Linked DNA regions of Homo sapiens. The protein of the gene in region 1 purifies or fractionates together with the protein of each later gene. This does not show direct contact. Each region holds a gene or a part of one and is shown in the gene's direction. Other genes may lie near its edges.

What was found.
Region 2: the proteins of SLC25A3 (region 1) and OPA3 purify together in Homo sapiens (co-immunoprecipitation; one large-scale study listed by IntAct). This does not show direct contact.
Region 3: the proteins of SLC25A3 (region 1) and DHRS4 purify together in Homo sapiens (affinity purification with mass spectrometry; one large-scale study listed by BioGRID and IntAct). This does not show direct contact.

Annotation. Positions count from the first base shown.
Region 1 is NC_000012.12:98,596,579-98,600,229, forward strand, and holds part of SLC25A3 (solute carrier family 25 member 3 isoform b precursor), read left to right. Parts: intron 1-1,277; coding exon 1,278-1,457; intron 1,458-1,943; coding exon 1,944-2,125; intron 2,126-3,056; exon of another isoform or gene 3,057-3,306; intron 3,307-3,376; coding exon 3,377-3,549; intron 3,550-3,651. UniProt on the Homo sapiens protein: Inorganic ion transporter that transports phosphate or copper ions across the mitochondrial inner membrane into the matrix compartment. Mediates proton-coupled symport of phosphate ions necessary for mitochondrial oxidative phosphorylation of ADP to ATP.
Region 2 is NC_000019.10:45,582,609-45,586,359, reverse strand, and holds the start of OPA3 (optic atrophy 3 protein), read left to right. Parts: upstream 1-1,557; 5' UTR 1,558-1,595; coding exon 1,596-1,737; intron 1,738-3,751. UniProt on the Homo sapiens protein: May play some role in mitochondrial processes.
Region 3 is NC_000014.9:23,956,742-23,960,392, forward strand, and holds part of DHRS4 (dehydrogenase/reductase SDR family member 4), read left to right. Parts: intron 1-3,160; coding exon 3,161-3,262; intron 3,263-3,651. UniProt on the Homo sapiens protein: NADPH-dependent oxidoreductase which catalyzes the reduction of a variety of compounds bearing carbonyl groups including ketosteroids, alpha-dicarbonyl compounds, aldehydes, aromatic ketones and quinones.

The DNA of each region.
Region 1 (3,651 bases):
GAATTTAGTTTATGTGCTTTTTTTTTTTAACTTGTGTTTAGTTTGTTTAGTGTTCACAAAACTTTATGCTATAAGCTACTTAAAGAACTAGCATATGTTAGGAATACAGTTATATCTATTATCTAGACAGTAGCTTTTAAAAAGTAGGAGGTGGGCCAAGCATGGTCGCCCACACCTGGAATGCCAGCATTTTGGGTAGCCGAAGCAGGTGGGTCACTTGAGGTCAGGAGTTCGAGATCAGAACTCAATCTAGCCAACATGGTGAAACCTCATCTCTGCTAAAAATACAAAAATTAGCTGGGCATGGTGGCGTGCCTGTAGTCGCAGCTACTCGGGAGGCTGAGGCAGGAGAATCGCTTGAACCTGGGAGGTGGAGGTTGCAGTGAGCTGAGATCACACCATGGCACTCCATCCTGGGCTACAGAGCAAGACTCAAAAAACAAACAAACAAAAAACACAAAAAAAGTAGTAGGAGTTGGGTGGTAAGAAATCTGTTAAGAATCAGTTTTGTTACGTATTTTTGTTGAAATTTTACCCTCTTAACTATCACTCCAAGACTTAAGTTTGACACAGAAAGCTTTTGTTGAAATTTTACCCTCTTAACTATCACTCCAAGACTTAGGTTTGACACAGAAAGCTAGACCTTAATGTACAACAGTTTCTATTTATAAAAGTAATCAAATGAACAATAATAAACAGTGATAAGCATAAACTAATAAAAGTTATATGAATGTAGTTCCTCACTCAAAATATCTTAATATTTTCAGATGTCAGTTGACCTTGGATAACTGAAGCCACAGAAAATGAACTCTTGGATAAGGGAGAGCTACTGTATTTCTTTTTTTTTTTTTGAGATGGAGTCTTGCTCTGCTGCCCAGGCTGGAGTGTAGTGGTGCCATCGTGGCTCACTGCAACCTCCACCTCCCTCCCTCAGGCTCAAGCGATTGTTCTGTCTCACCCTCACCCTCCCGAGTAGCTGGGATTACAGGTGCACGCCACCATGCCCGTCCAATTTTTTGTATTTTAGTAGAGATGGGGTTTCACTGTGTTGCCCAGGCTGGTCTTGAACTCCTGAGCTCAGGTAATCCACCTGCCTCAGCCTCCCAAAGTGCTGGGATTACAGATGTGAGCCACCGTGCCTGGCAGGAATTACTGTAGTTACCTTTTGTGTAGTTGCTGAAATTTATTATGGAACCCAAACAAAAATAATCATGAGATTAAATTTTTATGTTAGCTGTTTGGTGCATTTAATTTTTTTTTTCTTGTTTTAAATAAAGGTGGACCCCCAAAAGTACAAGGGCATATTTAACGGATTCTCAGTTACACTTAAAGAGGATGGTGTTCGTGGTTTGGCTAAAGGATGGGCTCCGACTTTCCTTGGCTACTCCATGCAGGGACTCTGCAAGTTTGGCTTTTATGAAGTCTTTAAAGTCTTGTATAGCAATATGCTTGGAGAGGTATGTAATTAACTTTAAAATTGAATGTTCCGAGTGTTTAAGACTTTCCGAGTGTTCTTAGATTTTTGTCTGTCTTGCCTTATTTTAGCACTGAAGAAAATGGTCCTACAAAGTGAGCAACTTGTTTTAAATCGTATGCCTGTGTCAGCAGAGACAGGTTGATAAATGTATTTCATTAAATTACAATTCTCCTTTTAATATACTATCTTGTTTTCTAAGTAAGTTGGATTTTGAGTTTTTTAGAGAAGGGCTCTGGGACTCCTTTGCGTAGTTCCGGGGCATGGCATCTAGATATTTTTTGAATATTCATGTTGTTCACATAGTTACGTGTTTTGTTAATGAGGTTATGAGACCACATATATATTCCATATCATCGTGTGTTACTTTATAAAATGTCTGAAGCTTAGTTGTTTTCTAGAACTGTCACTTCAATTGAAAACCAACACAACAGCAATTCACATCCCTTCCTTGTGTTTTGGATTTTAGGAGAATACTTATCTCTGGCGCACATCACTATATTTGGCTGCCTCTGCCAGTGCTGAATTCTTTGCTGACATTGCCCTGGCTCCTATGGAAGCTGCTAAGGTTCGAATTCAAACCCAGCCAGGTTATGCCAACACTTTGAGGGATGCAGCTCCCAAAATGTATAAGGAAGAAGGCCTAAAAGCGTAAGTAAACACTTAAAAATTTATACTATGAAAGTACTTATTTTAAGTGAACTTCATTTTTTTTTGTTTTTTTTTTTGTTTTGTTTTTTTGAGACAAAGTCTCGCTCTGTCACCCAGGCTGGAGTGCAGTGGCGTGATCTCGGCTCACTGCAAGCTCCGCCTCCCGGGTTCACGCCATTCTCCTGCCTCAGCCTCCCAAGTAGCTGGGACTACAGGCGCCTGCCACTGCGCCCAGCTAATTTTTTGTATTTTTCAGTATAGACGGAGTTTCACCGTCTCCATCTCCTGACCTCATGATCCGCCCACCTTGGCCTCCCAAAATGCTGGGATTACAGGTGTGAGCCACCGCACCCGGCTTCTTTTTTTTTTTTCTTTGAGACGGAGTTTTGCTCTTGTTGTCCAGGCTGGAGTGCAATGGCACTATCTCAGCTCACTGCAACCTCCGCCTCCCAGGTTCAAGTGATTGTCCTGCCTCAGCCTGCTGAATAGCTGGGATTACAGGCATGCACCACCACGCCTGGCTAATTTTGTATTTTTAGTAGAGACTCCATGTTGGTCAGGCTGGTCTCGAACTCCTGACCTCAGGTGATCCACCCGCCTCGGCCTCCCAAAGTGCTGGGATTACAGGCGTGAGACACCGCGTCTGGCTGTGAACTTCATTTTTTAGTATTAAGCCTACCAGACTTTTTAAAAAGACTATTATAACATTTAATGTCTATTTACCTGTATGTAGAACATAAACTTGAGAGGTAAAGATAAGTTAATACATGGTTTGAGCCCTGGACTGAGTTTTTTTTTTTTCCCTAGAGTAAGGACCATTTGTCGGTCTACAAATGACTTGATGTTTGGCCTAAACATTTACTATTAACTTTTAGGGAGGGCTTGTTAGTATCCTTGTGATCTATTCACAGTTAAGAATTTCCATGACCACAACATGCTTCCTTAGATCCACCTTTGTGGATGAATCTTGAACTGAGTTCCACTTGTAAACTTCTTGTTTCTTGTGGTTCCAGTAGTCAAAGAAACATCCAGCAACTTTTTTGGTTGTATAGTCAAAGGTGCTTGAGTCATTGGCATGTAAGAGAAATATACCTGCATGTTAGTCTAACGTTCTGATAGAAATGACATGCATTTATGCTGCCATTTGTTACTATCAGGACTCGACTCGTGTGCGGACATTTCTGTTAATAATGACAGTCTCTGATAGATGAGTGTATGCAACTGTGTAAAACAAGTCTCTTGATTTCCTAGATTCTACAAGGGGGTTGCTCCTCTCTGGATGAGACAGATACCATACACCATGATGAAGTTCGCCTGCTTTGAACGTACTGTTGAAGCACTGTACAAGTTTGTGGTTCCTAAGCCCCGCAGTGAATGTTCAAAGCCAGAGCAGCTGGTTGTAACATTTGTAGCAGGTTACATAGGTACGAATTACTTAGAACACACTTGTCTGAAATTATGAACAAATAATCATTTCCATTATTGGCGTTTTTTGAGAGGGAAAAATACTCCAAAGGTTATAAAGC
Region 2 (3,751 bases), on another chromosome or scaffold:
TAGTAATTCAGAATATCAGGGTTCACACACACACCAGCACCATCAGTAAAGATGAGGAAACGCAGGTCCCTCAGTGCCAGGAGCTTGACAAAGGACACTCAGAGAGTCAGACTGGATACCAAAGAAGTCCAGAGCCCCCTGATTCTGTGTCCTGAATGTATGTTTCCTCCTACACACCACTCCTCTGTTCCTGTTTTCCTTTTTTTTTTTTTTTTTTTTTTGAGACGGAGTCTCGCTCTGTCGCCAAGACTGGAGTGCAGCGGCGTGATCTCGGCTCACTGCAACCTCTACCTCCCAGGTTCAAGCGATTCTCCTGCCTCAGCCTCCAGAGTACCTGGGATTACAGGTGCCCGCCACCATGCCCGGCTAAATTTTTTTTTTTTTTTAGTGGAGATGGGATTTCACGATGTTAGCCAGGTTGGTCTCAAACTCCTGACCTCAGGTGATCCACCCTCCTCAGCCTCCCAAAGTGCTGGGATTACAGGCGTGAGCCATGGCGGCCAGTCCTCTGTTCCTGTTTTCTTCTGTCCCTCTGCCTCCGAGAATCTCTCAATTACCCATCAGCACTCCATCATCCAGGAATTTCTCTCAACCCCTTCCTGACATTGTTTATATGATTTTACTCCCTGCTGGGTAAGAAAGGACAGTCTGGGACATGTCCTTAAATTTATTTCTGAACTAGCTCCCTGGGGAACCTACCTCCTAATGAAGGAAGTTGGGTTGCTTGAGAACGGGTATGGTTTTATTGGCCAAGATGCCAGGCTATCAACCTCTGCAGGAACCTTGTGCCACCCCCTGCCCTGCTCTGGGCCTCAGTTTCCTTGTCAGTTACTTGGGAAAGGGTTGGATTCGCTGCTTCTGGGGGTGAAATGCACCCTCAGGCTGGATTTAGCATTAATAATGCAATCATGACCTGTATAGTAAGAAGGGCTATTTACTGAGCGCTTAACTATATGAATGGCACCATTCTAACCACTTCCCATGGTCCACTGTTTTACACTCAAGATTAGCATAGAAGCCTCACAACAACCCAAAGAGGCAACTGCTATTAGGATTCCCATTTGGTAGACGGTAATACTGAAGTCCAGAGAGGTTATGCCACTCATCTAATATTACACAGCGAGGAAATGGCAGAGCTGGGATCCCAGCCAAAGTCTGTATGACCGCGCGGCTTCCTCTTAATCCCAATGAGAGCCCTAGCTTGCAGAGGAAGGTGTATTTGGGGCTCATAGGACTAATTAGGACTAATTAAGAGCCTCCTTTGGGTGGGGACGCCAACTCGGAACGTGACATCACGAAGGAGTACAGTGACGTTGGCCAAGGCGGGCGTGGGAATCCACACGCCTTCCAGCATCCGTTTAACGGCACCGCCCCCTGACCCGCCTCACTTCCGTGTATATTTGCATATTCAGCGAACGGACGTCGCTACGCCAGCGTCGACGGGGTGACGTCAGGATGCGCCTCTGAAGTTTCCCTCGAGCGTACGTACATACGTACTGACGCACGCATGGCCACGAGAGGGCGGGGGAGGAGTGAAGAGGTTGAGGCGCCCCGCCCAGTCAGCAAGGTTGCGCGTGCCCTGTGAGACCGCCAAGATGGTGGTGGGCGCGTTCCCTATGGCGAAGCTGCTATACTTGGGCATCCGGCAGGTCAGCAAGCCGCTTGCCAACCGTATTAAGGAGGCCGCCCGCCGAAGCGAGTTCTTCAAGACCTATATCTGCCTCCCGCCGGCTCAACGTGAGTCTGACCCGAATTCCCTCCAACCTTTTTCCTTTCTCCAACCCCTGTCAGGTGGTTGCTTAGGGGATGGACTTCTGTCTACGACCAATCACAGCCCGAACCGGCAAAGTCCAGTGGCCAATAGTGGGGGGTTTCTGATAGAGGGGCGTACGGGTGGCCCAGTAGTGAGGGCGGGGCGGGGCGTAAGGGGCGGGTCAAGGAGCCACCACGCGAGTAGGAAATGCCAGCCGATAAAGGAAGAGAGCGCTTGGAGACTGATGCCCTGTTAAACCAATAGTGTGAGAGATGGGAGAAATTTGGACGGGGCTTTCCAGGATAGAGGAGCTAGGGGAGGGGCTGAGGAGAAACCGGACGGGGTCCTTTGCCCGGCTGTCCTTGGGCAACTTCATTTCAAAAGCGGCACCGTGTGCCTCAGTTTCCCCACTGATCTAGGAGGTGCTTGTATATCCTCCGTTTAGGACGTCGACGTGCCTCAGTTTTACTGTAGTCAATAAGTCTGGATTAGGGGCATGGTTCGGGGGTGAAGTCTGGGTTCTGGAGACATGGCCTGGGAATCCGGAAAAGGACTTTGAGCCAGAGAGGACATTCATCTGTGTACTCATTAATGCGCTCATACGCCGTCCTTTCATTCGGTTGACAGACTATGCGGCCTTTTTGCTCAGCACTGGGAGATATACTCCTGATCCATCACTGTCAACCCAGAGTGGTCGGGAAAGTGGGAGCCCCGGAGCTCAGAGGAACTGGCTGACCCAGGGACCTGAGGCCAGCAGGGCTGCCTAGAGGGGGCCGCCCGAGCTCAGATCTAAAGGGCATAGTAAGGTCCGGCGCGGTGGCTCACACCTGTAATACCAGCACTTTGGGAGGCCGAGGCGGGCGGATCACATGAGGCCAGGAGTTCGAGACCAGCCTGGCCAACATAGTGAAACCCGGTCTGTACTAAAAATACAAAAATTAGCTGGGTGTGGTGGCGCACACCTGTAATCCCAGCTACTTGGGAGGCTGAGGCAGGGGAATCGCTTGAACCTGGTAGGTGGAGGCTGCAGTGAGCCTAGATTGTGCCATTGCACTCCAGCCTGGGCGACACAGCAAGACTGTCTCAAAAAATAATAAATAGAAATAAAGGGCTTAGTAAACACCCAAAATATAAACTACTTTAAAAAGGTGATCTTGCCGGGCGCGGTGGCTCACGCCTGTAATCCCAGCACTTTGGGAGGCCGAGGTGGGCAGATCACGAGGTCAGAAGATGGAGACCATCCTGGCTAACACGGTGAAACCCCATCTCTACTAAAAATACAAAAAAATTAGCCGGGCGTGGTGGCTGGGCGCCTGTGGTCCCAGCTACTCAGGAGGCTGAGGCAGGAGAATGGCGTGAACCCGGAAGGCGGAGCTTGCAGTGAGCCGAGATCGTAACACTGTACTCCAGCCTGGGTGACGGAGCAAGACTCCGTCTCCAAAAAAAAAAAAGGTGATCTGTGTTGTGCTACGTGGGACATAAAATAAGGGAATTTAGCATCATTGGCTGGGTCAGAGAACCACTGAAACCGCCTTTGCAAAATTATGACTGACACAGCGAAAGAGATCTAAGTTAACTTACTCCATCTTGCTTCTAACCTCCAAGCTATCCTTGTTCATTCCTGGGCAAAGGCTGAACTAACTTTGGGAGAGATTTAGTTTGTAGTTTATAGTTTAAACAAACATGGTAACAGCCCTTTCCCAAAGCAGACCTCCTTCTTGTCTGGCGACTGGATTGCCTTTGTAGGACTAACATTAGCCACAAGATTAGAAATTATGGTTTAGGAGTCATGCAGCTGGAGGGTACAAGATTCTGACCCTCCCTAAACTGCTCCTAAGATCAGTGCTTGAGATATTTCACAGACCCTGCACTTGATGGATCAGCTGGCCTTACCCAGATCAATAAACTGGCCCATCTGATCTTGTGGCCCCCCAACCCAGGAACTGACTGAGCGCAAGAAGACAGCTCCGACTCCCTGTGATTTCATCTCTGACCAAT
Region 3 (3,651 bases), on another chromosome or scaffold:
TACAGGCATCCACCACCACGTCCAGCTAATTTTTGTATTTTTGGTAGAGACAGGGTTTCACCATGTTGGCCAGGCTGGTCTTGAACTCCTGACCTCAGGTGATCCACCCCCTCGGCCTCCCAATGTGCTGGGATTACAGGCGTGAGCCACTGTGCCCGGCCATAGCTTCTTAAAAGGATACGTTAAGGACCTTAAAAGGATATGGCCTCTTAAAAGGATATGTTTACACACCCTTGTAGCAAATAAGAAGCCATGTGAGGTTTTGAGCAAGAGAAAGATGGTTATTAGGAAAGCTAATCTGGCTCTGGTAGGAAGGATATACAGAGGAGACACCGAATCCAGGGCATCAGTGAGGAAGCTGTTGCTGTCCTCCAGGTTTAGAGCAGTGGCGGTGGGACTGGAATAGATGTGCCCAAGAGACATTCAGTGGAAACGAACCAAGATTTTCCAACCCCATGTCAAAAAGTGGGAAATAGAGAAGTCAAAAATGACTCTCAAGTAGTTTGTATGACCATTGTCAGAGAGGAGAATGATAGAATACTTGTCAGCAATTTGAAATGTCTTCTGCCAGTTGCCACATGTTACCCTGCAATGAGAAAAGCCACTTTCCTGAGAATGGATACTACCCAGTGGCCTCCTCATCTGGACACCACGAAGCTTCTCACTGGTGTTGTAAGTGGAAACCAGAGTAGCTGCCTATCTCCTTGATTATATTTTTTCTTAAAAATGTATAACTATCAGAACACAGAACAAACAGCTCCTAACCGCTTTGGTGTAGTGATCACACAATTTAGAATAAGACTTAGAAGACTTTCCTTTTTTTTTTTTTTCCAGAGACAGGGCCTCCTTCTGTTGCCCAGGCTGCAGTGCAGTGACATGATCATAGCTCACTGTAACCTCGAAGTCCTGAACTCAAGCAATCCTCCCACCTCAGCCTCCCAAGTGGCTAAAACTATAGGCATGCACCACCACACCAGTTCATTTTTTAAATTTTTTGTAGAGTTGGGGCTGTATTTCCCAGGCTGTTTTGAACTCCTGGCCTCAAGTGGTCCTCCCCACTGGGCCTACCAAAGTGCTAGGATTATAGGTGTGAGCCACCACACCCAGCCTCATTCATCTTTTATGGTTTGCTGTCTCTGTTCAATCAAAACCCAGCCTCCTCCCATCTCTGTGCTGACAGACCTGGAAGGAGAGGAGTATGGGGTATACAGCAGAGTAGAAAATGTCTCCAGGTGATTCTAGAGCAATCCATTGTCTCCTCCCAGCCCAAACACATGTGTACTGAGCACGGCGCACATCACTTATTAACTTACTCTGCACCTCCCTAGTAACAAGTCCATTGGTGAGACTTACACAGAGCCAAGGCAGGTGACTTGGCTTTGTGCCAGGATACCAAAATTTAAAGGGTGCAAGAAAGTATTAATACTGGTTTTAAAAGATTATGTGACTGTAAATTTTGTTAGATTTACACATTGACAGCCCAGCATTCCTTCAACTGTCTAGAAACAACTGAGCTTAGCACCTAGTTAACAAGAATAATTAGTTAAAACGGGAAGCTAGCAGATGGTGTACATTGTTAGTAACACCCCTCTGTGTGCCAAATCCGGAGCACAAAGTTGACCGAGGGCCCGTGTACTGCAACTTGCCCAAGGCATCAAAATTGCCAGTTCCGGGCAAACGGAAAGTCTGGTTTCAGGGTGGCTTTGTACTGAAAACCCTTGTTGGCAGATTCTGCTTGGCCATTCATTACTCTAGCACAGGCCTCACTATCTACTTATAACTTATTAAGGAGGTGAGATGTTGCCTTTCTTCGCCTTCTCAATTTAAATTTCAGTTTCTGCCTTGAATCTTTCATGCCTCCAGGTCAAAAGAGAGAGACAGAGACAGGGAAAATGACATCATAACCAAATATGGAATTGCTTTAAATTCAGGCTGGTATCTTCTCCCATCACGGCTCTCCTGGGCAACCAGTTTCCTGATGACCCCAACTCACTTTCAGAGGGCTCTTATGAATTAGCTCTGTGCTACAAAGTGGGAGACTGACCTCAGTTCTTCCACCACTAACTAGCTTTGTGCCCTGAAAACATCACTTCACCCCTCCCAAACACAGAATAAGCAGGCCTCCTGTTCTTACCTAGCCCCAGTGTGCCACTACTGAACTATAAGATCTTGAGAAAATTCTCTGAACCTATTTCATCATCTCCACCTTAAGGACACTGGAATAGATGATCTCAAAGGCCCCTCCAGGGTAACTTTCTACAGCTCTATTTAAGCCAGTTTTTCCATTCAGGTAAGTGTGGACAGATTGACTTTGAGATAATGGTAACTTATTCAAGGAGAACTGGACAGTAAGCACTTGGAGAAATGTGGGTGGAACTCAGTGTGAAAGGAAGAGGAGGGGTCTGGAAATAGATTTTGGGGTGAGACTTGAAATCATGAGAATGAAGGAGCTTCCCAAAGGGGAAGTGTAAAGAAAAGAGCGTCAGAGACAGCCTTGGAAGAATAGGAGGTGGGAAGAAAACACTGCAAAAGAAATAGGGCCAACTTCCTGGTGGGTCGCGCCTGTAACACTTTAGGATACTGAGGCAGGTGGATGGCTTGAGCCCAGGAGTTCCAGACCAGCCTGGGCAACATGGCAAGACCCTGTCTCTATAAAAAATACAAAAATTGCCCGGGTGTGGTGGCACGCACTTGTAGTCCCAACTACTTGGGGGGCTGAGCCAAGAGGATGGCTTGAACCCAGTAGGTCAAGGCTGCAGTGAGCTGAGAACATGCCACTGTGCTCCAGTCTGGATGACAGAGCAAGACTCCGTCTAAAAAAGAAAGAAGCCAACCTTAAATGGTTAGCGGCAGATCTTAGGGTAGTTTTCAAAAAAGATGTTTTAAGAAATAGAAGTTATTTTGACGATAGTTCCTAAGTAGGAAGATTTTGTTGTCATTGTTGTTGTTGTTTTTAATATAAAGATAAGGTCTCGCTGCATGGCCCAGGCTTCTCTCAAACTCCTCAGCTCAAGTGAGCCTCCCACCTTGGCCTCCCAAAGTGCCATGATTACAGGCATGAGCCACAGCTCCTTGCCCAGAAGGAAGTTTTTATCAACATGGGTAAATGCACCTCCCTTACTTACTGCAGCCCTGGTCCAGAACTTACCCCTCTCTCTAGGCTGTGAAGCTTCATGGAGGTATCGATATCCTAGTCTCCAATGCTGCTGTCAACCCTTTCTTTGGAAGCATAATGGATGTCACTGAGGAGGTGTGGGACAAGGTGAGAGGGGATTAAAGCAGGGGGGCCGGGGGGGGCGCCTTGGAACACATTCAGCACAAACTCCATCTGCTTTTAGAATGCATTTCTCAAGGGCAGTGTAAATGTGAGGACTCTTTGCCACGTGCCACACACCTGGAGCACACCTTGCAAAGGGCGGGTGGGGGTGGCTCTATCCCTGCCCTTCTCATTCGTTTCTGCTACTCCTAGTTCTCTCTGCTTCTATCTGCTCTTCACTAGCCACAGTCTGCTCCTCTCCCCAGGCTTTTTCCCTGGCATGCTCTTCTGCCTTGTTGATTTCCAACAGAGACGTAGGCAGCTAATATGCCAACAACTACAACACTTAATTTACACACCCACCTGTCCCCTTTTCAGCTGACAAAAAGTAATTA